Regions from separate parts of the Homo sapiens genome. Here region 2 is linked to region 1. A link means that fine-mapping ties the variant in region 1 to the expression of a gene that starts in the linked region. Tissue or cell type: aorta. Region 1 holds a variant in brackets; the other region holds the start of a gene. All regions are shown on one strand. Distances are from middle to middle. Region 1 overlaps JCAD (junctional cadherin 5 associated). Region 2 holds the start of JCAD (junctional cadherin 5 associated).

What was found.
Region 2: JCAD starts here. The variant in region 1 is fine-mapped to the expression of JCAD in aorta (GTEx, PIP above 0.99).

Annotation. Positions count from the first base shown.
Region 1 is chr10:30,021,405-30,036,759 of GRCh38, forward strand. It overlaps JCAD (junctional cadherin 5 associated), which reads right to left. Exons shown (of 4, transcript NM_020848.4): 3 at 4,699-8,462. Among named protein-coding and RNA genes, the nearest start is that of JCAD, 31 kb to the right of the region's middle. RefSeq lists enhancers at 5,935-5,994, 6,175-6,244, 6,963-7,692, 7,693-8,421, 13,189-13,785. The variant G/A (reference allele first, on the strand shown) is at 6,740.
Region 2 is chr10:30,051,075-30,066,429 of GRCh38, forward strand. It overlaps JCAD (junctional cadherin 5 associated), which reads right to left and starts at 8,512. Exons shown (of 4, transcript NM_020848.4): 1 at 8,408-8,512. It overlaps LOC101929256 (a long non-coding RNA gene), which reads left to right and starts at 7,764. Exons shown (of 4, transcript XR_001747405.2): 1 at 7,764-7,952. RefSeq lists an enhancer at 5,633-6,170 and silencers at 8,455-8,624, 12,066-12,360.

The DNA.
Region 1 (15,355 bases):
GCCCAGGCTGGTTTTGGGCTCAGATGATCCTCCCACCTCTGCCTCCGAAAGTACTGGGATTACAATCATGAGCCGCCATGCCCAACCATCATTATTTTAAATGTTCTAGTAGCTATGTTGAAACACATAAAAATAAACAGGTGAAATTAATTTTAATACTGTATTTCACCAAATATATTCAAAATATCATTTCAATATGTAACCAATATAAAAATTATTGAGACATTTTAGATTCTTTTTTTGTACTAAGTCTTTGGAATCTGGTGTGTATCTTACACTTACAGCACATCTCAATTTGCATGAGCCATATTTCAAGTGCCCAGTAGCTGTATGTGATGAGCGGCTACAATATTGGACAGCACAGGTCTAGAGGGTAGGGTGGTTACCCGGAGAATTTAGAATCCTGTTTCCTGTGGGCTCCATTTCAGCTGAGGACAACTCACTGAGGACTGCCCTGGTGGGTATTTCACACATTAACGCCCTCAGAGATGTGCTAACATCTAGCCTTCTCATGGCATGATCTGGTATCATGAAGCCTTCCCCGATTTCCCTCATTTTGGGCCTCACACAGATATCTCTTCTCATTCTTCCCCTGGACTCATATTAACAGAGTTTGCAACAGAGGATGATGGAACCAGGAGGTTCTGTGTACGATCAATGCCTGGGATGACACTTCCGAATTGGAGCATCAGTCATCCAGCAAAGATGGGAGTCTGTGACCCGAACTCGTTTTGGGCTGTTGATTTCTTAACCAGAGGCATGAAAGACCACTAAAGACATGTGAGCTGAAACGACCAACTTTAATCTCAAGACACTTGATGATATGACAGGCACGGCACAAGGGTGTGTGTGTAGGGTGGGGTGGTGCGGATAGACATGGCATGGCCTTGTGTTACAGTGCCAGAACAGATGCTTGAATTTAAATGGGCTACAAATTTAGGAGCAATGAAGCAGTTCTAGCATGCTGGGGTCATGGGGGCAGCAGTGCAGTGGGGAAGAGATGAGGATTCTTATGTTTAAAATGATTAAATACATCAAAAGGAAAGCAAAGTCCAAGCGCTTCTCAGTGACTTAACAACAAGGCTTTACTCTAACTTGTGAAGCAACAGTGAGCGGAAAAGTGGACATACGTCAAAAGTATTACTACCTCCATCATATGACCTCAGTTGCTCTCAAGACGAGTGGTTTTGAATATTGAGGCCTGGTGACCATCACATGAAAGGCCCACAGGGGGCCACCTGAGCAAAACAAATGTAAGATATCGTCCCTAATGGTGCTCTCCCCTCCGATTATGGTCATGCGCCACAGAACAACATCTTGGTCAATGACGGGCCACATAGATGACAGTGGTCCCATAAGATAATAATGAAGCTGAAACATTACTGTCATCTAGTGACGTCATGTCATAGTGCAATCAATTTTTAAACAAATGTGGTGTAGCCTAAGTGTACAGGGTTTATAAAGTCTACAGTAGTGTAGAGGAATTTTCTAGGCCTTCACATTCGGTCACCACTCACTCACTGACTTGCCCAGAGCAACTTCCAGTCCTGCAAGCTCCATTCATGGTAAGTGCCCTACAAAAGTGGTCCTTTCTTTTTTTTTAATATTTTATGCCATATTTTTACTGTGCCTTTTCTTTTTGTTTTTTTGGAGATGGAGTTTCACTCTTGTTGCTGAGGCTGGAGTGCAATGGCGCGATCTCAGCTCACTGTAACCTCTGGCTCCCGGGTTTAAGCAATTCTCCTGCCTCAGCCTCCCAAGTAATTGGGATTACAGGTGCCTGCCATTACACCCAGCTAATTTTTGTATTTTTAGTAGAGACAGGTTTTCACCACGTTGGCCACACCAGTCTTGAACTCCTGACCTCAAGTGATCCACCCACCTCAGCCTCCCAAAGTGCTGGGACTACAGGCATGAGCCACCACGCACGGCCTGTACCTTTTCTTTAGATATGTTTAGATACACAAATGCTTTCCATTGCGTTACAATTGCCTGCAGTATTCCATACAGTAACAGGCTGTACAGGTTTGCAGCCTGGGACCAATAGGCTCTACCATGAAGACTAGGTGTGTAGTAGATTCTACCATCTAGGTTTGTAGAAGTGCACTCTCTATGGTGTTCACACAATGACAAAACTGCTAATGATGCATTTCTCAGAGTGCAGCCCCATTAAGCGACGCATGACTGTACTTGAAAATGCCCGAGGAAGCTGTCAACATGAGTGGCTCTCTGCCTGCAGATTTTTGGCCATTTTATTGTATATTAGCAAATGCATCAGATGGAGAGGAGAAAAAAATAATTAAATTTTCTGCTTGTTAGTAGCAGTGGTTAAAAAAAAAACCCAAAAACGTCATGAGGGAGGTGTTGTTAATAACTGGCTAAAATTAAAATTTGCATTACCTGGGTGTTTTTAGATACCTACTGGACCTTCTCACACTAAATAGTCAAGTTAAAAATTGAAGGAGTGCTTTTCTGAACTGGAAATTTTGTGTTATCAAATACTCCCTAGACTGGGCACCATAATTGAGGCAGGAGGATTGCTTGAGGCCAAGAATTCAAGACCAACCTGAGCAGTGTAGGCAAGACCTCATCTCTACAAATAACTAAAAAAATAGCTGAGTGTGATGATGCATGCCTGTAGTCCCAGCTACTTGGGAGGCTGAGGCAGGACAATCGCTTGAGCCTAGGAGTTCAAGGCTACAGGGAGCTATGATCATGCCACTGCACTCCAGCCTGGGCCACAGAGTGAGACTCTGTCTCAAACAAAACAAAACAAAAAACCTTCCTGAAATAGGTTTCCATGAACTGAGACACAGAAATATTTACCAACTGGTACTGTATTATAACAGGATTTATTTGTCTTATTTTAAACTCCTTACAATTTTCAGGAAGATGTAGGACTGAGAAAATCATCCTGATTTTATAGATGAAGAAAACTTGCTTTAGAAGTCTATGACAAGTTTTAACTAACCTTAAAGTCTAGTGGGCATATTTTTTGAGGAGGAAGGGGGACTGCAGAGGAATTATGCTGAAGGCTACAATAAATCCAGAAAGCTCAAAAAATGGGCAGGTAACCCTTTTCCTACCATAATGGCAAAGCCTTCACATTCTCAGTATTCTCTACCACTGCAAAGGCCCAGCTTGTCCAACTAGAGGATCCAACGGGGCCCCGACGAAGGATTATTTCAATCATGTGTTTTGCATAAGGAGCAGAGAAGCAACACTGGCTAACACCCCTAAGAATCCCACTGTATTTGGGGGAAACTTGAGAGTGCCCATGTACATTTTTTTTTTTTTTTTTTTTTTTTTGAGACGGAGTCTTGCTCTGTCGCCCAGGCTGGAGTGCAGAGGCACAATCTCGGCTCACCACAAGCTCCGCCTCCCAGGTTCACGCCATTCTCCTGCCTCAGCCTCTTGAGTAGCTGAGACTACAGGCGCCCGCCGCCACGCCCAGCTAATTTTTTGTATTTTCAGTAGAGACGGAGTTTCACCGGGTTAGCCAGGATGGTCTCGATCTCCTGACCTCGTGATCCACCCGCCTCGGCCTCCCAAAGTGTTGGGATTACAGGCTTGAGCCACAGCACCCGGCCCTACATTTTTTTGTTCAATAGAAATCTCTGACTACTTCCAACTGAAACAACAGCTCTTTTCTATCTGCTTCAAAATTCTTGGGTTTCAAAACAGAAAATAGAAAGGGGTGGGAGGAGCAGAACCACCTGCTGGAGACTGGGTAGGAAGAGGGAAGGGCCCAGCTCAGGAGAGGGCATTCCTCTAACTCAACTCGTAAGGACCAAGTTTTTCTTTTCCCCTTACTGTAAAAGGCTTGGACTGGGCCGGGCTCAGTGGTTCACGCCTGTAATCCTGGCACTTTGGGAGGCCAAGGTGGGTGGATCACCTGAGGTCAGGAGTTCAAGACCAGCTTGGCCAATATGGCGAAACCCCATCTCTACTAAAAATACAAAAATAAACTGGGCCTGGTGACACACGCCTGTAGTCCCAGCTACTCAGGAGTCTGAGGTAGGAGAATCGCTTGCACCCAGGAGGCGGAGGTTGCAGTGAGCCGAGATCGTGCCACTGTACTCCAGCCTGGGGAACAGAGTGAGACTCTGTCTCAAAAAGAAAAAAATGGGAAGGGGAGGGGAGGGGAGGGGAGGGGAGGGGAGGGGAGGGAGAAAAGGCTTAGACTAAATGACAGAAGGTCCCTTCCAGTCCATGGCTTATGATGTGGATCTTTTGACATTTATCTCAACTCTTCTACTGATCACCTGAGCTCAGGAGTTCGAGACCAGCCTGAGTAACATAGTGGGATCTCGTCTCTATAAAAAAATTAAAAAATTAGCTGGAAATGGTGGTGCATGCCTGTGGCCCCAGCTACTCGGGAGGCTGAGGTGGGAGGATCACTTGAGCCCAGGAAGCAGCGGAGGTTGCAGTGAGCAGAGATTGCACAACTGCACTCCAGCCAGGCGACAGAGTGAGATACTATCTCAAAAAAATAAAATATACTGCAAGATCTTGAATTTTAAAGATGGCTTCTGGATAATTCTTCGAAAATGAGGAATCTTTTGATAAAACAATTCCCAGGGTCAACTTGATCTTTTCTGAATATGCAGATTTACATTATCCACCAACCTGGTATTTTGTACTGACTAAAAACTCCAAATGTATACTGAGCACCTGCCTGTCTGCCTGATTCCTCACCTGGGCACCAGAAGTCTTGATCCATGCTCTTCTCCTTTTGTGCTGCCGGATGCTCCTTCTCTTCCCTGGAGATGCTGTCCTTGGACACAGAGAGTGAGTGGCCCAATCTCTGGGCACGGTCCCCACTGCCAGGAGACACAAGGCCTCCCGGGAGCCCGGCCTGGCCCCTTGTGGTGGCCTTCAATTCCTCGGCGTCCTCCTGGGAGTCGGCATTCCTGAAGCTCAGGACTCTCATCCGTGACACTGAGCTCACCTCTTTCATTCTCATCAGGCGGTCAGGGTCTGCTCTCCTAGGCGGGGAGGCCAGTTTCTCTTGTAAACTTTCAATCACTTTGGAAGGGCTTCTAAGTCTCTTTTCAGAGCCTGCCACACTTGGGGTTCTTTCTACAAAATGGAATAAAGTGGACCTGAAGGGTGGTTTTGTTTCCACATCCTTTTGTTCGAAGAACTTGGACTCCAAGGGGCTGGGCTCAGGCTCAGGGACAGGGTCTGTGCTGGTGACAACCCCGTCCACATCTGAGTGCTCAAAAGCCTGAGGAGCCCGCCTGGCACTGTCCCTGTCCCCTACAAAGAGAGGGCTCTTGGTCCAGCCGCACTTCCTCCTGCCATAAAAGGCATCAGTGGACACCCTGGGGACATCTGCCGGTGCTGGGCGAGATAGCAACTCTTCCTGGGGGGACTCTGGGGTGCAGGCACTTGCATCGGGCTCAGCAGGCTGGTTCTGTCCCGCTCTCCGGATGCCCGGCAGGAGGGACTCCACCGCCACCTCAATGCCCAGGATCCTTGCAGCCCTGGCTTGCAAGGACTCACCTGGGGGGATTTCTATTGTGCTTGCTTCACCCAAAGACCCCTCTAGCTCACTGGCACCCTGTTCTTGCCCAGGGGTGAGCCCCACAGACCGTAAGTCTGGAGCTGAGAGCCCTCGGTTCTTGTTAGACAGGGACAGTGGGAGCCCTGCCCCCCTCTCTCCACCACTGTCAAACTTCCGAGGGACCGCTTCACTTGGTTTCACAGAGCTGAAAGCACTGGTGATTTTCGGACTTTCCTGGGGCTCCCTAGGTTCAGCTGGATAGGACGCGGGCAGTGGTTTTGCGTCACTTGATCTTGAAGACATTCTCGTCACAGGAAATGGGCTACCTGCCAGCTCGTCCATTCCGTTGCTAACCTCCAGGTGTCTCTTCTCTGCACTCGTGCTTCCATCTGCTGAGCAGAAAGGTGCACCGCCACCTTCTTCCACGCGAAAGCGGCCCGGGGATGGAGGCCAGGCACGTGGGTGGCCAGGCTGCAGCTCCTCACTCCAGCTCTCAGACTTACTCTCACCTCTTCCCGACCTACACACAGGGCTCTCCGGCACCCACATCCTCGGCTGTGGCTCAACCCTCATTTCCGGGCTGTTTCCGCGGAAGCCCACATCCTCCTGTCTGCAGTGAGCACGGTTCTCCTGCTGCGGCTCCGCCTCACTCTCCTCACTGCTGCTGCTGCTGCTGCTGCTGCTACTGCTGCTTTCTTCCTCTTCCTGGAGCTCCTTGTTAAAACTTTCTAACTGACTGATCAAATCCCAGGGACGACGGCTGACCGGTTTCAGGAGAAACTGCCCAAAGAGTTGTTTACTGTTGCAAGGGCCCGTGGGCTCCCCCTTCACCACCTCCCGCTTAGGCCCAGGGTGGGCTCCAAGCCCGTGGACATCCACGCAGGGCTGACTTCGGCCTGCTTTTGGCGTCGGTGCCTGGTCCACGGACAAGGAAGTCCTTGAGAACGCACTGTTGCTGGATGGGCTGAGGGACCTGTGACCTTTCAGGTTACGGGCACTTGGCCTCTGTTTGTGATCACCGGTAGGGAATGCTGTGTGCGTCTGAGCTTCGGAGGCAGCAGGGTCTGAACATTTTGGACTCAATGCTGCACGACTCGGCCCTCCCAGCTTTGCACCAGGGAGCAGCTGCGAACTTTGGGGCTCCTCGGAGAAACTGGTTTGTGTTTGCTGATCTCTGTACCGGTGCCCTGGCCAAGAGCCAGAATGCTTGAGTTCTCTGTGCTTTGTAAG[G/A]TGGATGAAACTGAGGTCATTTGTTTGTCTGTCTTCTTCTGGTTCCCCTAGATCTTGTTTTTGGAACTCCGTTCTCCCACCCATGCTTCCTGTGAGGGCCTGCAGCTCCAGGTCGGTGGAAGACATGCTCAGCAGACTCTGTTCTTGCAGAGCCGGGCTCTTATCAGACCCATTCTTTTGATCAGCACTGGGCTTTAAGTCATTGTTGTCCATATCTCTATCTGGCAGATGTGATTCTGATTTCACTGGGATAGAAACCAAGCAAAATATAGTCTCGTTCATTTTTTTCTTTGAACTTTTCTTGGTCCGAGTCCCAGTTTGGAACTTTTTGAGCTTGGTTTGAGTTTCGCAGGTGCTCTCGCCCTGTGAGTAAGGGGAGGAAACTTGTCTTCCAGTGTGCCCGTGCTGGCTGCCTCTCACATCAGGCCACTGTCCCCTTGCCACACAGCGGTCTCTCTGGTTGGGGAGGCCACTGTTTTCCCCATCCCCGGGGGGCTGGCCCCACAGCCACCGGGGGCTGGAATCGGCCAAGACCAGGCCTCTCTCATCCCCCGACGGGGGTATTAAGCTCTGTGGATTCCAAATGGCACCATCAGGCTGCATTCCTCCATGAGCCGGCTCTTGAGCAGTGACAGGACTGGAGTTATATGATTTATCGTCAAGCTTTATGTCTTCACAGAAACCCTGGGGCTGAGCTAGTTTAAAATGTCGTAACCGTGGATCATCAAAGGGAATGTACTGAACGAAGCCGTCATAGGCAGTGACAGGTCGGGGATGTGCGGGGAGCCCCTGAGGCAAGCGGGGGCTCACACCATACTCATTCCCAGTTCCAGGGGGGCCTGAAGGAGGCTGACCGCTGGCCCCAGCCTTCTCGGTCGGAGACTGCTGTTGACTGTGACCGCCACACACATTTATGGGCACCGTGTCTTCCAAGTAGGGGTTTGGGATGTTCTGCGGGGGCGATCTGTATGAGGGCGGAGGCACGTACACTGGAGGTTCCAATCCAGGGTCTGACAGGCAGAGCTCATGCCTGGGGACATAGGCGTCCATCTGCTGGCTGTCCTGAGAGTCACTGCTGTCCGCTCCTCCCCTAGACTGCTGGTGCGAGCTGTAAGATGGGGGCTTGAGGGGCCTCCCAAACTTAGGCCGGGGAAATGGGGCTGAGCAGCCACTCTTCTCAGAATTCCTCGTGGAGTCCAAATTTGGTGCGCAAGTGGGAGGATACGGTGGCATTTTAGGTGAATGTCTTTCATTTAATGGAATGGGAATTTCCGTGCAACTCAGGCTCTCGGGGGAAAGAACTCTAGGCAGTGAGCGAGACTTCCCTTTGTTTTGAGAATTCAACACATGTTCTCCTTGAATGAATGGGTACAGGTCTTGAAACAGTCTCTCCCCATCTCCATCAGACATCTGCCTCCCTAATTTCCTTGGCTGGTTCCAGCTTTCCAGGCTGACGTTCTGCCACTTGGCAGGACCTGACATTCGCAATTCTTCTTCCCAAACTGGCTTCTTCATCACATGCTCTGACCTTCCTCCAACTTCCCATGGACCCTCCCTCACGTGGACAGGCAGGCTGTGGGCTTGGGCCATTCCTCTGGCCTCCAGGTTTTCGTGCTCCCTCGGCTTCTGGCTCCTGGCTTCTTGCCGTCCTCTTCTCCGGTAGGCTTGGTCGTTACCAGTCGGGGGATGAGAGGACCATGCTGAGGGGGGTTGATTACAAAACCTACAAAACAAAGAGTCACAGACGTTAGGCACAGAAGAAACATGTCTTCATCTGCTTCTGTGACTGGCATTCGAAGTCAAACTCAGGTCAGCAACTTTGAAAACTTGGTTCCCAGCCACAGTACTTGCCAGCTTGAAAGAAAACATATCCCATTAATTATGGTTGGAAGACAGCCACGTGTTTTGGCATCAAGGGCCAAGAAGGGGCAGCAGTGGGCAGCCCACAAGAATACAGGGATGTTGGGTGTACTCCAGCGATGTCAAGGTCCTTATAAACATTAAAATGTCTGGTGGAAGGCCGGGCACCGTGGCTCATGCCTGTAATCCCAACACGTTGGGAGGCCAAGCTGGGAGAATCTCTTGAGGCCAGGAGTTTGAGACCAGCCTGTGCAACATAGTAAGACTCTGTCTCTACACAAAATTTAAAAATCAGCCAGGCATGGTAGTGCCCACCTGTCTCAGCAACTCCAGAGGATGAGGTAGAAGAATTGCTTGAGCCCAGGAGTTCGAGGCTGCAGTGAGCTGTGATTGCGCCACTGCACTCCGGCCCGGGCAGCGGTGAGACCCTGCCTCATAAGGAAAAAAAAATGCCCAAGGGAACAAGGGTTAACTGTTCAGTAGTATTTCTCAAGGTGTGGTCTTGGACCACTTGCAGCATATTGCCGGCTCAGTCCAGACCTCCTGTGCAATCTCTGGGAGGGAATCTGGGAACCTGCTTTTAAAAACACTGTTTTTAAGCAAGGGTTCTGAAACTTTAGTGAGAATCAGAATCACTGAGTCCTGGAATTGCTAAGAGAGAGATTGCTGGGTCCCATCCCCAGCTTCTCATCTGGCGGGTCTGGAGAGGGGCTCTATAATCTGCAAGTTCCCAGATGATGCTGATGCTGCTGGTCCCAGGGCCTTACTTTGAGAATCATCATTGCTGGTGGTTGTTCACCCTGACTGCACATTAGAATCCAGGAAGACTTCAAAAATCCAGATGCCAGGCAGTATCCTAGACACATTACATTACAATCTTAAGACGTGTGGGTGGTAAATGGAGGGCGAGGCAATCAGGCATCCGAGACTCTCCAAGTGTCCCCGGAGATTCCCAGTGTGCAGCCAAGATTGAGAAAGATGTCTCTAGCAGAGTCCCCTCATCTCTCTGATGGTAAGCATCACCCAGTGGGCTTGTAAAATATACACATTACCAAGTCTCTCCCACTGAAAGTTCAGACTTGGTAGGTCTGGGTTAGGGCCCAGGCATTTGTATTTATATTTTTATTTATATATTTATTTTTGAGACAGGGTCTCACTCTATCACCCAGGCTAGGTGCAGTGGTGTAATCATGGCTCACTGCAGCCTCAAACTCCTGGGCTCAAGCAATCCTTCCACTTCAGCCTCCCAAGTAGCTGGGACTGACTACAGGCACTCCATCATGTCTTGCTAATTTTTAAGATGTTTTTGTAGAGATGGGGTTTTGCTGTGTTGTCCAGTCTGGCCTTGATCTCCTGGCCTCAAGAAATCCTCCCACCTCCGCCTCCTCATGTGTTGGGATTACAGACATGAAGCACCATGCCTGGCCCATCTGTATTTTTTTTTTTTTTTTTTTTTTTGAGACTGAGTCTCGCTTTCGCCCAGGCTGGAGTGCAGTGGCACAATCTCGGCTCATTGCCACCTCCGCCTCCTGGGTGCAAGCAATTCTTGTGCCTCAGCCTCCCGAGTAGCTGGGATTACAGGCACCTGCCACCACACCCGGCTAATTTTTGTATTTTTAGTAGAGACGAGGTTTCACTATGCTGGCCAGGCTGGTCTCCAACTCCTGACCTCAAGTCTTCCGCCCACCTCGGCCTCCCAAAGTGCTGGGATTAGAGGAGTGAGCCACTGCGCCCAGCCCCATCTGTATTTTTTTTTTTTTTTTTTTTTTGAGACGGAGTCTTGCTCTGTCGCCCAGGCTGGAGTGCAGTGGTGGGATCTCGGCTCACTGCAAGCTCCGCCTCCCGTGTTCACGCCATTCTCCTGCCTCAGCCTCCCAAGTAGCTGGGACTACAGGCGCCCGCCACTACGCCCGGCTAATTTTTTGTATTTTTAGTAGAGACGGGGTTTCACTGTTTTAGCCGGGATGGTCTCGATCTCCTGACCTCGTGATCCGCCCGCCTCGGCCTCCCAAAGTGCTGGGATTACAGGCGTGAGCCACCGCGCCCGGCTCCATCTGTATTTTTAACAAGCATTTCAGAGGATTCTTATCCTCAATTTTGGGAAACACTGCTAGGGCTTACATTGAGATTGTCTAGAGGAAGAGGGGAGCCCTGTTCATGGGGTGAAACTCTCTGCAAGGCAGGAAATGGTAGTATCAAATGCAGGGTGTTGTTCACTACTGGGCCACACATTAGGATTTCCTTGTGAGCCTTTAAAAAATACCAAAGCTCAGGGCCCATCTCCAAATATTTGGATTTAATTGGTCTAATGAGGAGCCAGTATATTTCAAAATCTCCCAAATGACTCTAGCATGCGGGGAGAGTTCAGAATCACAGTTCTAATGCAACCAAAGGAAAGTATCTGAAGAACATAATGTGCAGAAATATTAAGCTACTACCCATGAATGATCAGAGACTAGGGCCATGTAATAGGGAAAAACCATTAACTGGAAGGAAGTTCAGGGGACTCAACAGTTTTGATTAACCATGGGCCGGGCTGACTTGAAAAATGTTTCAAGTCTAGGATAGCTGTTTGCTTTTTAAATTATTACAGTAATGGATTCATTGTTGAAAATGAATGTTGGAAGAATATAAAAAAGTACAAAAAACAAAAATTGCTTATACTCTTTCTACTCAGAGATGGTTACTTTGATACATATCTTCTCACCTGTGTGTGTGTGTGAGGATGTGAATTTTTGAACAGCCTGGGTATTCTACTAGATATCTGGTATTATGTGAACATTTCCTGACACTTGTAGCACAAACAGCAGCAGCTGCTTACACGGTGGTTGCTGTGTGCTAGGTCCAAGCCATGTGCTTTCTGCAAACTAACTCATTTAAGCTTCACCAACATCCTTCTGAGGTAGAAGCTACTGTCAATACCACTCTACAGAGGAGGAAACTGAGGCACAGGTGTTAAGTAACTTGCTTAATACTAACATCTACTGGGCACCCATGCTGTACCATGCATGGTGCTAAGCATGCCAAGTGAATTATTTCATTTCAACGTTATAATTACCACTACTTCCCGCTTTTACAGATAAGAAAACTGAGGCACAGGTAGGTTAAATGATTTCCCCAAGTTACACAGCCTGCAAGGATTTGTGAAAGAGCTCTAAGCCAAGAAATGTGAACCTAAAACGCTCAATTAACCCTGCATTTTACTTCTTCCAGTGTAATGAAAACGCCCTCAGGTGCTTAATGTTCATGGATGAATTGTATTCCCTCACACACACAGGATTTACTTAACCCTTTACCAGTGTTGGACATTGATGTGGATTCTATTCTAAAACACTTTGAAAAACACTATTGTTCACAAACACGTGATGTAGGTCTCAGATCATTTAGAGTAAGTCCTTAGAAAAGAAGTGAGTAGATCATGGGGTGTTGTGTGATGCATGTTGTCAAACTGACCTTAGATAAACTATCCAATTTATAGTCCCTCCTGTCGTGCAGAGGAGAGCCGGTCTTGCTGAACCTTTTCATCCCTAGTTATTACAACTATTTTTCCCCATAACTTCTCACTACTTTAATTTGCATTTCTTTGATTACTAGTGAGGTCGATTTCTTTTTCCCCATGTGCTTAGGTGTTATTATACATTTTGTGGTTTCGAATGATTCCAGCAACACAGTCTGCTTTTCAGCTGGTGGCACAGCAGAGTGAACACAACATGAAACTGGGAGGTGCAAGGCCACCAGTTCTATGCAGCAACAGTGCGTGAAGCCTGGAAGAGTCCCTGCTGGGGCCTGGGCTGCAGGAGAGCCCTTCCAATCACAGAGGCAGAAGGCTGTGGGCAGGAGCCCTGGTAAAAACTTCTATTTTTATTGCTACTATTCTTATTTTGGAATTACCTCTTTGCCTTAAAAGGTAAGGATAGCCCCTCAAACTCTGTATCCAAGGCCGGGTGCAGTGGCTCATGCCTGTTATCCTAGCGCTTTGGAGGCTGAGGTGGGTGGATCACCTGAGGTCAGAAGTATGAGACCAGCCTGGCCAACACAGTGAAACCCTGTCTCTACTAAAAATATAAAAATCGGCCGGGTGTGGTGGCGGGCATCTGTAATCCTAGCTACCCGGGAGGCTGAGGTGGGAGAATCGCTTGAACCCGGGAGGAGGAGGTTGCAGTGAGCTGAGACCATGCCACTGCACTCCAGCCTGGGCGACAGAGCAAGACTCCATCTCAATAATAATAATAATAATAATAATAATGATAATAACAATAATTCTGTATCTACTTCTACCCCCTGTTAACTTGTTAGGCAGTCATTTACAGCAAAGCTTAGTTATGGGCTGGAAAACCAGAAAATATCCAAAATCAATCTGAGGTAAGACATTTGCCACTGAGCAGCCTCAATGCTTCTGTGTTAACGACCTGTACATGGTATAAGACCTGTACTGTCTTAACACCGGGCACGGTAGGAGGTCACAATTTCTGTGTTGCTTTTGTTGTCATTGAAATTATGTTTTGAGCATTTGGGTTTTGAATGCTGAGAAGACTGCTTCCTGGTCAGGTTCGACACAGATTAGTCATTTTGAAAGCCATCGTCACTGGCCCCTCTGCATAGCCCCTTTCCTCCCTCCCTCCCCACTTTAGCTGAGCCAGGCTTGCAGCTCCAGAAGCCACAGAGTCCTCCCCTGGGGACTCCTGTGTGACCGCCCATCAGTAGCCTGAGAAATGCTGTAGAACATGAACCACTGAAAAGTCTTCAGCACCTACTGTCTATAGGCTCCCAGACTCTATAGAAAATCCAAGGGCAAGACTTAAAAACTACCATGTAATAAGGCATTACAATTGTTACACCCCACTGTGAAAGGCTAAAAGAAATCATTAGGAAGTATGCGGTTGGTGCTTTGCATCAGAAACAATCTACCCTCTTACCTCTGCTCTTAGGCTGATGGTGAGTAGGCTTTTATGAAGCACCGTTCTCATTCCTGACAGTCCTGTGAACGCTTTCCTGGATTGCATGACTTTAGGGAGGAAACCGTACCGTGTGGCTTTGACGCGTTTTTCTCAATTGATATTCGGGTTTCACAGTGTGCTTAGAGAAGGGGCTAAAATCCTAAGGTGCTACTTGTGCAAGTACACGCCACGAGCATAATCAGAAGACAGATAAAAAATGACAGAAATAGGACAAGAATACAAACAGCCTGTCACTTCCTACAGAGGGAGCGTGGTTGGTTTTCTTCTCCACCCAAAAATGTTACACTATCACTTTAACTTTGTCAAAACTGCCATATATAACAAACCAAAATAACTAAGAATTTTGGGTTAAACTTCCTTCTGTTTGCACAAGGTGCCAAAATTCCAATTTAATAAAAATACAGGTCATCCGGGAAATTTTAAATTATCTACTTTGCAACGCAGTCCACATGACATAGAAAACTATAAACCATTTAATTAATAAACATCTATTTTGTACCTAGCAAGGGCTGGGCTCTGACAGGTGCAAGCGGACTCCCCATGGGGGTCGCTCTGGTAGATTTCTCCTTCAGACAAGTTAGCAAGAATGGCTCTTCTAGTAGCTTCGCTATAGGACGCCCATTACCAGCTAAAATGTGTACTGCTGCATAGGGTTTCAAAGCCAAAAATATATTTTCTGATATGTTTAAGGAAATGAGATCAAATTTTTCTTTTTAGAAAAATGAAACTAATTATCTTACATTTTAAAAGACATTAACAATGGCACTTCTAGGAAAACATGCTGAACACATTAACACAGGGTGGGAAAAAGATAAGGAAAGCAAAGTGGAATGTGATCGCCCAGACAAATTGTGTCCATGAGTTCAATGGGACAAGCAGGGTCTTTACACAGAATTCCCGGGTGAACGGGACGGAGATGAAACAGAAGTTACACTTGCCAACAGCCCCATCTCTCATCTCAGGAGAGATGAGGCCAGCGAAACAACTACTAGCAACTGCTTGGGAAACATCTGAAATATGAGCATGTGAAAAACAATATGTTTAACAGAAAATGAGCAAGTCTATTCACTGCATATGCAGCAGCTAATTATGAGAAAAATTAGGAGACAGTTCTGTTCATTCACATGACTCCTTCTCAACCACAATGGAAAATGATACCCTTCTTTTAAAAAGTGATTCTCCTTAGAATAGCAACATTTGGGCTGGGCACAGTGGCTCACGCCTATAATCCCAGCACTTTGGGAGGCTGAGGCGGACGGATCACCTGAAGTCAGTAGTTCAAGACCAGCCTGACCAACACGGTGAATGAAACCCCGTCTGTACTAAAAATACAAAAAATTAGCCAGGCGTGGTAGTGGGTGCCTGTAATCCCAGCTACTTGGGAAACCGAGGCAGGAGAATGGCTTGAACCCAGGAGGTGGAGGTTGCAGTGAGCTGAGATTGCACCACTGCACTCCAGCCTGGGCAGTACAGAGCAGGACTCCGTCTCAAAAAAAAAAAAACAAAAAAAATGCAACATTTGGAATGCCTGTAACCACTGGCTCACATTCCCCATCTTCTCAGTGGCCTCCAAGGTCCTCATGAGCCACACTGACTTGTTATCACCCAGGCAGCTGCAGCCTGGCACTGGGCCTGATACCCAGGAGCACGGGATAGATGTGTGGATTAACTTAAGAAATCAGCCAGAGGCTTGCTGCCTGCCTAATGAACTGGGGGTTCTGTGGGAAGTGAGACAAACAGTTACCCTTCCCTCCTCCATGAACAAAATCCTGAGCCTGGTCCTCCCGTGGGGGCCCTC
Region 2 (15,355 bases), 30 kb after region 1:
ATATTTTCTTCCTTAACATCAAAAAAGTTTCCTACTTTACCAAATAATCCATACACATAAATAAGCTAAGAGAGAAGGCATGGTGGCATTAAAATTAAAAACCATATATTTAAAAGGAAAAAAATTCTCCTTTATTCTCTAGGAGCAGAATGGCTCTTCTAGATGACTCTTCTCACACACCACACGCACACACGCACGCACACACGCACGCACACACACACACACACACACACAAGAGTTGATGCCTCACTTGGCTATAATGTCTTGATGGCAACGCTGGTGTTAATGTTTAAATGCTCAGTAATATGATTCGTTCTTGAATACACCATGCAATTGCCTTGTGACCTTAACAGACCTCTTTCATCATTTGGAGTTTTGAGCTTTTCATAAATAACATGGGGCTATCATAAAGCCTGCTGTATGAAACTGAAATGTATACAAACGACATCTATAATAAGTGGGAGATGAGTAACTTTAAAAAAATAAATTCTTAAAGAAAAAAAAAGTCCTATATAGAAATAGCCATTCTTATCTGCAACATTAATAGAATTTGGACTTAATTTGAATAGACAACAGCAAACTACAAATGGGTTTGGGCAAGGGAAATCTGGCAGAAAAGCAGGGGACTAAAGTGGATAGAGCGAGAACAGATGGGGGACCTGTAGTTACAAGTCCTTTCTATTGTAACATGCACAGGGGGCTGGCAGAGGGGATAAGAAAAAAAAGGAATAATAAGAGTAATTTTCAGGAGAAGAAGTACAATGGATTTTAGCCTCAGTGACGAGGATAATGATCATTCCATTAATAGAAATATAGAAACTGAAAATAATTGTTGGTTTGAGAAGATGACAGCTCATTTTATTTTGATTTAACCAACCTAGTCTCACAAAATTCTCTTTTCCCCAAATCATCAAATGGATTCTCATCAAAGATTAATGATTTGTCCTTCCAAAGAACCTGAATAAGACCACTTGCAGTGATCTTATTGCATGGCACCTTTTCAAAGTTCTTTAAATATTAGCTCTATGGTGTCTATTCAAATGGAAGGGATTATAGAATTAGGAAGTTGCTGTTAACGATCCACTGACATTGGGCATGGGGCTGGGTTACCTCCCGCTTCGCTGTTGGGATGAGTGTCTGTTTCTCCATGGTGCACGGTATTTATCTGTGAGGTGAATCAAGCCTGAGTCACTGCACAGGAGGAAAGGAGAGAACCCTTTGGGTCTCAGTCTTCTCCTGAAGGAGTAAAATGAGAAGGCTGAACTAGAGGTTCTTTAGAGTCCTTCTAGCTCTAGGAAGCAGGCCCCTTTCTCTAGCCTATTCTCGCCTGTGATGAGCAGCAGGCATCGAAGTCAGCTGCCCCAGGAAAAAGAGTACAGCTTGTGGCCACGACACAGAACAGGGCTAAATAGGTCATCTGAAGACAGAACCTCTGACCTTGGCCTTATTAGCACCCATGCAGAGGCCACCCAAGAGAGTAGGGATAAATGGCCACCCACTGAGGAAAGGAGTGGGCTAGGGAAGGCAGGCCAGGAGCGAAACATCCAGCAATTCTCCATCCCAGAGTGCGGGTGCTGCACGCTTACGCCAACGTAAATTCATCAGGGCACTTGTTTTACATTGGAAGTGCCAGGCACTGGGCTGAAGAATATAAAGACAAATAAGACCCCGTCAGCACCCTCCCTTGCGATGCTATGGTCTAGGTGGTATTATTTCAATTACGGATCTTCTCATCACTAAAGGTTAGGACTGGCAAATGAATGCCATTTAACAGGTACCATCTTCTCCTTCCTTTCCATTTATAAAAATAAGCATTTTAATTCTCATATTTACAGTTATAATGCTCAAGACAGTGAAAGGAAACAAAACATTAAGGAACTCATTAAATCAACCAGAACTTTTTTCCTTTTTAAAATTGGCCTAGAACACAAACTAAAAATTAACTTTAAAAAGAGAGACAAATATACTATTAAAAAGATGAAAAGCATGGTCACCCTCACCTGTAATCAAAGAAATGCAAATTAAACCAAAATGCCATTATTCACTTATGAGATGATTAAAGCTTTTAAAAAGCAATGCTTGTTGTTGGTAAGGGCATGAGGAGCTATAAGGGTTCTCCTGTTTGTGTGTGTATAAATGGTGGGGGGTGGGGGGTGCAGGCTATATGTAAATGAAAATGAGTATTTCCCTTCTTAAAAGTGATTAGCCAGGTTCACTGGCTCACACCTTTGATCCCAGCATTTTGGGAGGCTGAGGCAGGCATATCACTTGAGGTCAGGAGTTAGAGACCAGCCTGGCCAATATGGTGAAACCCCACCTTTACTAAAAATACAAAAATTAGCCAGGCGTGGTGGCGCTCACCTGTAGTCCTAGCTACCTAGTAGGCTGAGGTGGGAGGATCCTTTGAACCTGAGGTGGAAACTGCAGTGAGCGGAGATTGTGCCACTACACTCCAGCCTGGGTGACAGAGCGGATACTCTGTCTCAAAAAAAAAAGAAAAGAAAAGAAAAGAAAAGAATTATTAATATGTAACAAAATCTTTAAACATCTGAAACCCTATGGAATAATCTCACTTCTTAGGATCTGTCCTAATGAAATAATCAGAGATACACACTGTTTTGTATAAGGATAGTTATCCCAGTTTTAATTATGATAATAACAAAATTAGACTAAATGTCTAATTTAGTAAAAAAAAAAAAAATTCTGGGCCAGGTGCAGTGGCTCACACTTGTAATCCCAGCACTTTGCGAGGCTGAGGTGGGCAGACCACCCGAGGTCAGGAGTTCAAGACCAGTCTGACCAACGCAGTTAAACCCCGTTTCTACTAAAAATCCAAGAAAAATTAGGTGTAGTGGCATGCGCCTGTAGTCCCAGCTACTCAGGAGGCTGAGGTGGGAGAATGGCTTGAACTTGGGAGGCAAAGGTTGCAGTGAGCCGAGATCGTGCCATTGCACCTCACCCTGAGCGACAATGAGGCTCCATCTCAAAAAAAAATTCTGGTGCATCCATATAGTGGACTATAATATGTATACACATACATAAAATTATGTTTTCAGGTATACAACAGCACAGGGAAATGCTCGTGATACCACGCTAAATAATAAAGACAGGATACAGAACCCTAGATTCAATGTCATACCAAATTTGTTTATATACATATGTACTTGAAAGGGGAAAAAACACTGAAAGGAAACATACCAAAATGTCAGCAGAGGTGATGGACTCTGAGTTTTTGAAAAATTTCCTTATTTATACTTTACTGAATCTTATGATATTCTGTCATGAAATGTATTAGGTCCAATCATATGAAATTGTCATTTTGCAGGTCAAAAATAGTCAAATATTGGCAATTTCATATACTTACTATACTTAACTTTATATACTTAATATTAACTTAAGTATATATAACAACATATATAATATCCACATTCTTATTATATAATTTAATATAACAATATTGTTTCATCACCAATCATCATTATTCATAACTTAATATATTAACATATTACATAACTTAATTAAGTTATATATAACTATTTCATCATCAGAAAAAAACTTTCATAAATGAAATGCTGCTTAGGTTAGATGAGGAAAATGCATCTTTTTTTTTTTTTGAGACGGAGTCTCGCTGTCGCCCAGGCTGGAGTGCAGTGGCGCAATCTCGGCTCACTGCAGGCTCCGCCCCCTGGGGTTCACGCCATTCTCCTGCCTCAGCCTCCGGAGTAGCTGGGACTACAGGCGCCCGCCACCTCGCCCGGCTAATTTTTTGTATTTTTAGTAGAGACAGGGTTTCACCGTGTTAGCCAGGATGGTCTCGATCTCCTGACCTCGTGATCCGCCCGCCTCGGCCTCCCAAAGTGCTGGGATTACAGGCGTGAGCCACCGCGCCCGGCCGAAAATGCATCTTTAAAAATAGGTTAGGTATTTGGAAGCCTCAATGACAATAAAAGAAACATTGAAGAAAAGAATAAATGAGTAGTAAATCACATAAGGCTCTAGTATATGGTACATGTGCCTTATCTGCCAGAGAGACTCTTAACCTGTTTTCAGGAAGCCAAAATCACATGTGCTGCTGAAGAAATCTAATACAAGGTTACAACCAGCATTCTAAAAAGGTCTTAATTAGACATTGTTACTCCTCTAAAAGACCTAAAACTTTTCAGTTGTATTCACTGACATTCCATGCTTAAGATGTAATTGGTCCCTCAAATTGTTGGCAGTTCAGTGTAAATATCTCTTCAACTGACAACATTTAGGTCTAATGCTATGATTAATATATAACAAAGTACTTTCTTTAAACAAGAGGTAAATCACCAAGACATAAAACAAACCAGAATGGAGTATGTTGCTAACTGACACGTAGGTTTTTAATGCTTTCCACAGATTTTTTCCTAAGGGTAGAATTGTGTATTTTACTATGAACAATAGAATTGCTATTTCCCTTTCCAGTCTTAATTATTAAATAACGCAACAGTCCCAGTTGAAGTCCTGGGACACCAAGTTCTCACAGACTGCTGTTACCATACCACACGTGTGATGACCAACTCTGCCAAGGCAGTCAAGTTGTTAAAATCTCACAAGATGTAAAAAATCATACTTAATCTGTGAAGTAATCATTTTAGGAGGACATCCTTAGGTTTCTTTAAGGTGACAAAAAACAAATGAGTTGGAAAACTTGTGTCTAAGATCAAAAGGACCTTGGAACATTAATCTTGCTGGGGTGGATTGGTATTAAGGCATTTGTTCAAAAAAAGAGAAAGAAAAAGAAAAAAGTCCCCAACATTATGCACTGAATTTTTTTCCTAAGTATTATCCCTTCTGACTCCTCTTTTTTTTCTTTCCACAACTAATGTGAACACACACACATGCACTTACACACACTCTTTCTCCTGTCTTCTCTTTCACCTCTAAATTCTGTGTCACACAATTATTGCTTTGGCTAGCAATATTTTTATGAGACCTTAAGTACCTCATTAACATTTCTGAAAGATTAGAAGTCATTAAGAAAGGACTCAAACTGGATAAGATTTTTAAATCTTTTGGAATTTTTGGCTATTTGCAAAAATAGCTGTAAAACATCATCATAGGTTAGAGTTTTATTCCCTTATCATCATGTATGTCAAGCTCCACATGTAAAGATACCTTAAATATTCCATTAAACTTACCCTTCTTTTGGTTTTGTTTTTAAATATCTTCAGAATAAAAAAAAGCCAAGTCTTTATCAAAGTGTTTGACTTAAATTATTTCATATGATCTTTACATTTCTATTTATTTCCTAAGTACAAAAGTCATGTAAAGTGATTTCAAAAGTAAACACTGCAAAACTCAGTGCTTAAGTAAAAAGGAAAAGTTCCTAGTAACCCCACTGTGCCAAGAGATAACCAGTAGCAACAATCTGGTTTCTGTTTCTCTAACTATTCTTCCTACACAGACAAGTTGCTTGCTTTTTTTTTTTTCTTTCCTTCTTTGGAATGTATCTTGGTGCTTCTTCCTAATAGTATCTAAATTCTTTCATTTACATACAGAAAAAACAATCTTTACAGGTAAACTATAAAGACAACCAATAAGCCCAAAACTATAAGGATACTTCACGATCTGATAACAAATCTGCCAGCCTATTGATTTAACCAGGCTATTCCCAAGCATATCTATAGAAAGTTGTTGGGAAAGATATTTGGTTATAGATAATCCAAATTTTTAACAAGACATCTTCAATTCAAATCAAGATAATTGAGGTTTTAGTATCTGGGGGAGGGGTTCCTGTATTTTTCTAAACACCATTTAGTGTTTAAAGCATATATCAAAGCCCAACACCTCCCCTCCCTGGGCTGCTGGCGTTTGCAAGTCAGTGGACCTCAACATTCCTTCCATCAGCAGGCCCTTGAAACAAAGCACAAGAGCAAGGTTTTAATGAGAGAGATAACCCTTCTCATCCAAAGGAGGAAAAACAACATCTGTTAAAAACCCAAGTAAACTGCAGTAATGGGTTCAGCAATAGGCCCAGAGGACTTCAGAGAGATAGTCTTTGCTTATCAAAATAAAAAACACAATAGAACAATTGTTTCACTCCAACGCTCTGTGTTCTAAACGCTCTCCAGATTAATTAGCATGGAGTTTCGCCAAGCTCATTAAAAGAAAAACTAAGGACTCCTAAGGATGACTGGTGTTTACTGTCCTCCCAAACTGGCCAGTGAGAACTTGGGGGAGCCACAGACTTCTGGGCTTTCTGTACTGATAACATTTCTAGGATTTATTTTTAAATTGCATGTTAAAAATTAGACTACAAGAATCTTTTCATATTTACTTTTTTTAAGTGAAAAAATTGGTCCTTATTTATTTTCCTTGTGTACCTCCAACCCTGCTACATTTTATAGCTGCCGAACAATAGACCACAGGCTTCTGGAATCTGTGACCACTCGATGAGCTATTTGATAACCCTGATGACTTTGTCAAGTCATCCAGAGCATGTGGACACTCAGGCCAAACTTCTTTTTTCCCCGAAACAGGCTTTCTCCACCCACCCAAATCCCCTAATTCTCCTGGGCCTGCCAAGGGCCTGACCTTCCAGTCTCTGCAGCAAAGGGTGAAGTTTTACAGGAGGAAGGCCCAGCAGATTAAAGGCCTCTGTTCAACAAATATTTGCTCGCCCACTCCAGGCGGAGTAACAGTTTCTTACATGCTGCATGCCCACAGTGACACTTAGAGACTTCAGGAAGCTTGTTAAGCTGGTGACTAAGAATTAGACACCTAATGTCAAGGTAAATAATTAAGTCCCAATCCACAGACGTTATGGAAAACCAAACCACTTTAACAAACTCCCAATGTCACACGAAAACCAACACAAGTCCAATGAAATAGAATCTGCATATGATTTCCAAAAAAGCCTGTATGCATTCTTGCTTTGCCGGGTGGTCTTAAAATTCTAAAATGAACTGACATTCCCAAAGTTTTACCTGTACAGCCCATGACCCTCAGTTCACACCATGCAGACTGCCTTTTTTTGCCAGAGCATTTCTGGCTGCCCGAATCCTACCCATCAGGCCCCTTCCCCCAAATCCCTGTATTTTGCAACCCTAGCCCTCAATCTCTGGGTTATCTATTCCTTGTAAATCTGAAAAGACAAAAGACCGGAGAAGGAAAACAAGTTGTGGGAGAAACATCACATTAAACTGTCAGGACAGGAAACCCTGGGAGTTGTGTGGTCTGCACCGCCCCACCCCTCTCCCCAAGACTAAGACCAAGCTACTAGATTTGGGGAGGGAATGAGGACACGGGAGGCGGGTGGAGTGCGTGCGGGGGTGGGAGAGTGGGTGTAGGTGTGGGGAGGTGATGTGCCCAAGCTAATTCCCCCAAGGCCTCTCTACTCCTTAAGCGCGTGGATGACCAAACACCAGGGCATGCCCAGGTAGCGCTGGCCTAAAGTTCTCGTTTTTATTTTCTTCTTCAGTAGTGAAATCACAGCTTCTTTACAAATGCCCAGAAGAATCCCAGGCGCTCTGCTTCTTGACGGAAGCGAGAGGGGCGCTTTTTAGCAGCTAGTGCTGGGCCCCACTGTGGCCAGGGCATCGAGGCAAACCCTGGCATTTTGGGGGTGAACGGACCCCGACTGGAGACGGGGGAAGTAGAGGGTGCCCGCGGAGATCTGAGCGCAGAGACCCTAGGAGGGCGGGTTCCAGATCCCATAAATGAGATAATTAACGGGATTTACAGCACTCCTAGGCGGGGCTCCTGCCCTTCTCCCATCCCACGCGCAGCCAGGAGCCGGGCGGCCCCGGGCACTCGCTGGGAGGCAGCTGCGATTAGCGCCCTAATCCCCAGCGCAGACCGCGCAGAGACCGGAGCGGGAGCGGGGCCGCGGCGGGAGCCCCCCACCGTCCCGGGCAGTCCAGACGGCCGGGGCAGCGTGGGAACTGGGACCTCGGGGACCCAGCGCGGCGGCTGTCAGCTCTGGGGTGAGGTCCGCGAGATCTGGGCGCGAGGGCGCGGGAGGGGTTGGTGGACACAGGCTGGGGAGGGCGACTTCGAGAGGGGAGTGAGTGACCCCGGCCCCCCAGGCCCTCCGCGCGCCGAGGGGCGACGCGAGCGCTAACGCCAGCCGCGGCCCGCGGTGCCCGCCCCGGGACCCCCGCGCTCCGAGCGGGGCACCTGAGGGGAGGGGACGCCCCTCCCGGGCTGGCAGGCGCCCTCCACCCCGAGGCTGCCGGGCTAGGCACCGCGCGGGGGGCCCAGGCGGGGCTGCGACTGGGGGTGCAGACATCCCCCACCGCCAGGGTGGCTGGAACCGGAGCGACGTCCCAGCTGGAGAAGTTGGGGGGAGTGCGGGAGGCTGCGGGTGAGGCCCGCGAAGCGCCGTGGGAGCGGCCCTAATGGACGGTGGGAGCCAGGAGGGTTAGACGCCGGGACTTACCGAGCGGCTCCCTCATGCCGCCTCGCGCCGCCACCGCCGCCGCTCCGGCCGGCCGGGGACCAGCGCGACCCGCCCCGCCTGCAGCCGCCGAGGCCGAGCATGCCCGGAGAACCGCCGTCCGCCCCGCCCACCGCCCGGGCCCGCCCCGCCCACCGCCCGGGGCTGCCTCCTCTGCGCTGAGGGCGGTATCCAGGCCACGAGCTTCCTAGGCTTTTGGGGTCCGCCTGCGTGGGTCGCGCAGAAGGCACAAGTGAGCTGACCACCATTCCCTCTTTTCTTGTCACTTGGGTTTGGGCCACGTCAACCCTGTGGAAATGTCCAAAGACACACACACTCTCACAGATACACAGAAAGCAAACATATTCATATCACACAAACACACAAAGATGTATGCAAACACACTCATATACACCCACACACAGATGCACACAAACACACTCACAGGAAACAGGCGCACACAAACACATATACAGGACACACAGGTGCACACACAGTCACAGACAAGTGCACACACACTCAAATACAGTCACACGCAGGTGCACACAAACACACCCATATACAGTCACGCACAGATGCAGCCAAACACACTGACACATATACATACATACATGGGAACACAGTATGGCTATACACACACACACACACACACACAAACGCACCCACATAACACATCGATATTATGAAGAGCAGAAAACAGTGATGGTGACAACAGCTTGGGATTTACTTCTTTCAAAAAAAAGTCTGAAGGAGTCTGGAAGCCACCTTCAGATCAGCTGGCCCATACTCTCCTGTGGCAGAGGAGGAAACTGATGACAGGAGCAGGATTTGCCTACAGGGCAGGGGTAGGAGGAGAGATAGGAGGAGGTCAGTGGGAGAGTTCAGACCAGAATGAACATTTGGGGTCATTTGGGTAACCCCAAACCCACTCCATATTTCTCTTACAGCGGGAAGGGGCAGAAAGATTAGACTGCTGCCTGGGTCTGCTCAGGGCGAACGTTTTCATAATTTTGGAAGGCAGACAGAAGACAAAAAATGTGAAATATTGCTGATGCATTGGGGAGAGACAGGGAATGTTAGTTAAGTCCACCCAGACAAAACATGGATGGCACAGCAGACTGGTGACCTTGCCAAATTAGTTTTCAGAAAACTACTTAGCCACATCATGATTTTAGGACTGTATTTGCTGTCGAAACACCAATAACTAACTTTTTTTGCTCTATTACCACATCTGAGCCCTTCCTATGTATTATTTCTTTTAATCCTCATCACAGTTTGATGATATGGGCACCACTTTACAGATGAGGAGTGGGCTCAGGGACGGGCACAGATGGCAAGCTGCAGAATCTAGCCCAAGACCCTCGCTCTGAACCACCAGAGCAAGGTCGTTTCTTTGTTCTCTTGAATCATATGTTCCTCATGGTTAGTAGCAACGTATAATCTAACACAGCATAAAAGCTAAACACACTATTGCTGGAAAAGAACGAACAATGTAATTGAATGTTGTATTGTGCATTATCAGGAGTGCGTGGGAGGAAACCAGATGGTGGCGATAGGAGCAGGCAGCATGATTAGGGGCTCGAGAACCAGGTAGCTCAGGTCCCGGGCTTGGCTTCTCTGCCACTTTCTAGATGTGGTACTTTACTTCTGTTAGCCTCACTTTCCTCTCTAACAAAGTGGGGGTAATGATGGTTTGCATCTCATAGGAGAGTCATGAGAATTCAATGAGATGATGCCTTCTTATCACTTAGTTCAGGTACATGTAATAGTCAAGAAAATGGTGGCCGGGCATGGTGACTCATGCCTGTAATCCCAGCACTTTGGGAGGACAAGGCAGGCGGATCACCGGAGGTCTGGAGTTCGAGACCAGCCTGGGTAAGATGGTGAAACCCCATCTCTACTAAAAATACAGAATTAGCCGGGCGTGGTGGCAGGTGCCTGTAATCCCAGGTACTCGGGATGCTGAGGCAGGAGAATCACATGAACCCGGGAGGTGGAGGTTGCAGTGAGCCAGGATCATGCCACTGCACTCCAGCCTGGGCAATAGAGTGAGACTCTGTCTCAAGAAAAAAAAAAAAAAGAAAGAAAAGAAAATAGTAGCTACTACCATTAACACTTGTACAGCTACTGCTGTTTGACTTGGAACCACCAGGGAAGACTTTGAAGGACAAGTGGATTGTGGCTAGGGAGAGACACAAAGGCTGGGAAAATAGGATTCGACAAAATTTAAAAGATAGAAAAGGAAATGCAGACTTTTTTTTTTTTTTCTGGGGAGTCACAGTTATTAACAGCAGTGATATTACTTCTTGTCAAAAAAGCATCATTCGATGATGGATTTCTTCAATGACTTATAGAATTCCTGTTTCTCCTCAATTTGCCAACTCAATGAAATAACTTTGTCCTGGGGTGGAGCACCTCTATGTGCCCAGCATGGTGCAGACACCTAGGGAGCCAAGTATTCCTGCTAGAACATTTATCAGTCAGTGAATTGAGATTAGGATGTGTTTCCCCACAGAACAATGTCATATTGTTGGGTTTCTAGGTCAACCCCATGGAAGTTTTATAATGTACCTAAGGGCTGTAGAGTTGCAAAACAACAGAGTAGGGTTGCAGTAAATCAGAAAACAACACTGATTCAATGCTAGGAGCTAAGCTAAACCAAACCAAATCAAGTTTAATAAGAAATTGTATTTTAGCAGAAAGGCTGGCAAAGGCAGATTCAATTAGGGGAATGTAATGGGATTGAAATACTGGAGATTCTAGAGAAGATGACTTCACAATTTCAAGATGCTTGTAGTTTCTTGACCCTGGCTCTTTATCCTAACATCCTCATTTCAAAATGTTTGGCTTCCGTCTTTCCTCAGTACTGATGTATCCCTAGCCCTGCTCTAATGTTTTCCTGGCATGACTAAGGCCATTTCAAACAAAGAAGCAGAATGAAAAGATGGAGAGAGAAGATGGTGGTGAGGCTGTGGATGTGGGGAGAGGGGCAAGCAGAAAGGTGGAAAGCTTTTCTAAAGATCTGGGAATAGAATTAACAAAGAGGAAAGAGGGTGTATTATTCTATTCCCATGCTGCTAATAAAGACATACCCAAGACTGGGTAATTTATTAAGGAAAGAGGTTTAATGGACTCACAGCTGCACATGGCTGGGGAGGCATCACAATCACGGTGGAAGGCAAAGGAGAAGCAAAGGCGCGCCTTACGTGGCAGCAGGCAAGAGGGCATGTGCAGGAGAACTACTCTTTATCAAACCACCAGATCTCATGAGACTTATTCACTATCACAAGAACGGCATGGGAAAAACCCGCGTCCATGATTCAATTACCTCCCACTGGGTCCCTCCCACAACACGTAAGGACTATTACAACCCAAGGTGAGATTTGGGTGGGACACAGAGCCAAACCATATCAGAGAGTAAGGTTGAAAAGATGCATGAGTATGAGCAGGTGATTAATCATAAATGTAGGAAGATAATAAAGATAAAAGGTAATGAGGAAAATCCACTGGGCCAGTTTCCACACCGGTCACCAGTACATGGACAAGGGATGGTGGGCAAGACGTGAGAGAAACAAGCCTAACCTCCTAATTCCCTTATCCCTACCCACTCCCATTTTCCTGCAATTTGGGTCTCTTGCTTCCACTTACTTGATCTTGGGAGATTTAAACACAGGAAAAAAAAAAAAACTCGCTTATGTGATGTAAAATATAAACTATGATTGAAAACAGCATTTAACATGAAGCTGTTAGAAGTCTGGCACAGCCCTGGGAGCATGTGCCAGGATCCAGCCCTGGATGCCCAATGTCCCCGCCTTTCTTGAGTCCTGGAGAAGGGATTTCACAGACTCAGGAAGGAACTTGGATTATTGAGTCATTGGGCAGATGTGCAGTAACCAGAAAAATAATGTTTAACCGCCTGCTTAAAGAAAGAAAAAAAATAAAAGCCAAGATCTTGTTTCTCTAACTTACTGCCTGTTCAAGGACCTAGAGCAACCCTCCTCCCTCCCTGCTTTAGGGCCCTTCTCTGTAGACTATAAGGTTTCCTTTAGCTGATTTAGATATTGATTTTGTTTTTCTTAGTCTGTAAAGACACTACCAGTTCTCATTTTTTAAAAGATTAACGCTCTTTTAAAAAAAAAATTTGTTGTCTTCACTGACACATAATAATTGTACATATTTATGGGGTACAGTGTGATGTTTTGATGCTTGTATACATTCTGTAATAGTTAAATCAGGGTGTTTAGCATATCCATCTGCTATAGTTTGAATATTTGTTTCCTCCAAAACTCATGTTGAAACTTAATCCCCAATGTGGCAGTGTTGAGAGATGGGATCTTTTTTTTTTTCAAGATGGAGTCTTGCTCTGTTGCCCAGCCTGGAGTGCAGTGTCGTGATCTCGGCTTACTGCAACCTCCGCGTCAGGGTTCATGCAATTCTCCTGCCTCAGCTTCCTGAATAGCTGGGATTATAGGCAAGTGCCATCGCACCCAGAAAATTTTTGCATTTTTAGTAGAGTTGGGTTTTCACCATGTTGGCCAGGCTGGTCTCGAACTCCTGACCTTGCGATCTGCCTGCCTTAGCCTCCCAAAGTGGTGGGATTACAGGTGAAAACCATTGCGCCCAGCCCAAGAGATGGGATCTTTAAGAGATCATTGGATCCTGAAGGTTCTGCCCTCATGAATGGATTAATCTATTCATGGATTAATAGATTAATGGGTTAATGGATTAATGGGTTATCATGGCGGGGAACTGGTGGCTTTATAAGAAGAAGAGAGACATGAGCTAGCATGTGAGCATGCTCAGCCCCTCACCATGTGATGCCCTATACCACCTTAGGTTGACTCTGCAGAGTCCCCACCTGCAAGAAAGCTCTTACCTGATGCAGCCGCTTGACCTTGGACTTCTCAGCTACAAGAAATAAATTTCTATAACTGTAAAAAGTAAATTTCTTTTCTCTATAAATGACCCACCTGCGGGTATTCTGTTATAAGCAATGGAAGGACTAATACGCCATCACCTTATACATTTACCATTTCTTTGGGTTGAGAACATTCAAAATCCTCTCTTCTAGCAATTTTGAAATATACAATACACTTGTTAGCTGCAGTTACCCTTCTGTGAGATAGAACACCAGAACTTATTCCTCCTAAATGAAACTTTGTACCCATTGACCAAAAAAACCCCACGTTCTCTCTTTTTTTTTTTTCTTTTGAGATGGAGTCTCGCTCTATCACCCAGGCTAGAGTGCAGTGGTGTAATTTCAGCTCACTGCAACCTCCACCTCCCAGGTTCAAGCAGTTCTCCTGCCTCAGCCTCCTGAGTAGCTGGGATTACAGGCACGTGCCACCACGCCTGGTTAATTTTTGTATTTTTAGTAAAGACGGGGTTTCACCATGTTGGTCAGGCTGGTCTCGAACTCCTGACCTCGTGATCCACCCGCCTTGGCCTCCCAAGGTGCTGGGATTACAGGCGTGAGCCACCGTGCCCGGCCAAAACCCCACATTCTCGATAAAACCTTGAGGTCTCTCTTGTTGGCTTGTTTTAGAAAGTCAGGCAATAGTGGTTACACAGAAACTGGCAAGGATCTTGTGAGGATAGAGAGTATATTGGTGGGTACCAGAGGCCAGGAAGGGTGGGTTTGGATAAAAAGAAGCTGATTAATACATACAATATACACTTAGAAGAAATAAGACCCGGCATTTGATATATCAGTACGGTGTCTATAGTTAACATTAACCAATTGTTCATTTCAAAATAGCTGGAAGAGAATACTTTGAATGTCCCTAGCATAAAGAAAAGATAAATATTTAAGGTGATGGATGTCCCTATTACCCTGGTTTGATTATATGAATTTATCAAATTATTACATGGATCCTGAAAATATCTACATCTAATATGTATTAAATAAATAAATAAAAAGCTGCCAAATTGAAAAAAATCTAGAAAGGATTTTATGTCAACAAGTGCTAATAACACTTGTTTTTAGTTATTGCTATGCTTTATATTAATTCACAGACTATATCGCATAATTTTTTTTTTTTGACATGAACTCTCACTCTGTCATTGAGGCTGGAGGGCAGTGGTGTGATCACAGCTCACTGCAGCCTTGACCTCCTGGGCTCAAGCCATCTTCCTCCCTCAGCCTCCTAAGTAACTGGACTATAGACACACACAACCATGCCCAGCTAATTTTTGTATCTTCTGCGGAGACGGGCTCTCCCTGTGTTGCCCAGTCTGGTCTTGAACTCCTGGGCTCAAGCAAAGTTCCCACCTTGGCCTCCCAAAGTGGTGGGATTAGAGGCATGAGCCACCATGCCCAGCCCTGCATAATTATTTTTAACCAAGAACTAGAAATCTGTTTCTCAAAGTCTGCTCCATGGACCACCTACACCAGGATCAACTGGGGGAGGGAGAGTTGACTAAAGGCCAAATTCCTGGGCCTCATCAAACCGATGCAATCAGAATTTCTAAGTTCTACCTTTGAGATCCTGGAATGTGTACTTTAAGGAAATGCCCAGATGATTCTCACATACAGTAAAGTGTGAGAAGCAGGGATGGAGCACAATAAATAGAAATGATCTGTGTCAAGAGAGGAATGGATTGATTGACACGTAGTATACAGTGCAAAGACAGTAGCCGTGAACGTCATTGTATGATGATGGAGAGTCACATAGCAACATCCTTCACTAATCAAGTGCATTAGATGTTTACTGTTGGCTTAGAAGATTTGACGCTAACTGAAACAAAACCTACAATGCTGGGGACCAAGAAGAGAGTGACAAACAATTTTTCAATCCTATACCTCCACTGTGAGGAGATTGAATCTGCATAGTTACTGCATGAGAAAAATCATTTCTAATTGTTTGCTCTCCTCGTGTCAGCTTGTTCTCACGTAAAGCCACATATTAATGGAAAACAACTCTGTTACACTCACCGTAGCAAAGAGCTGCT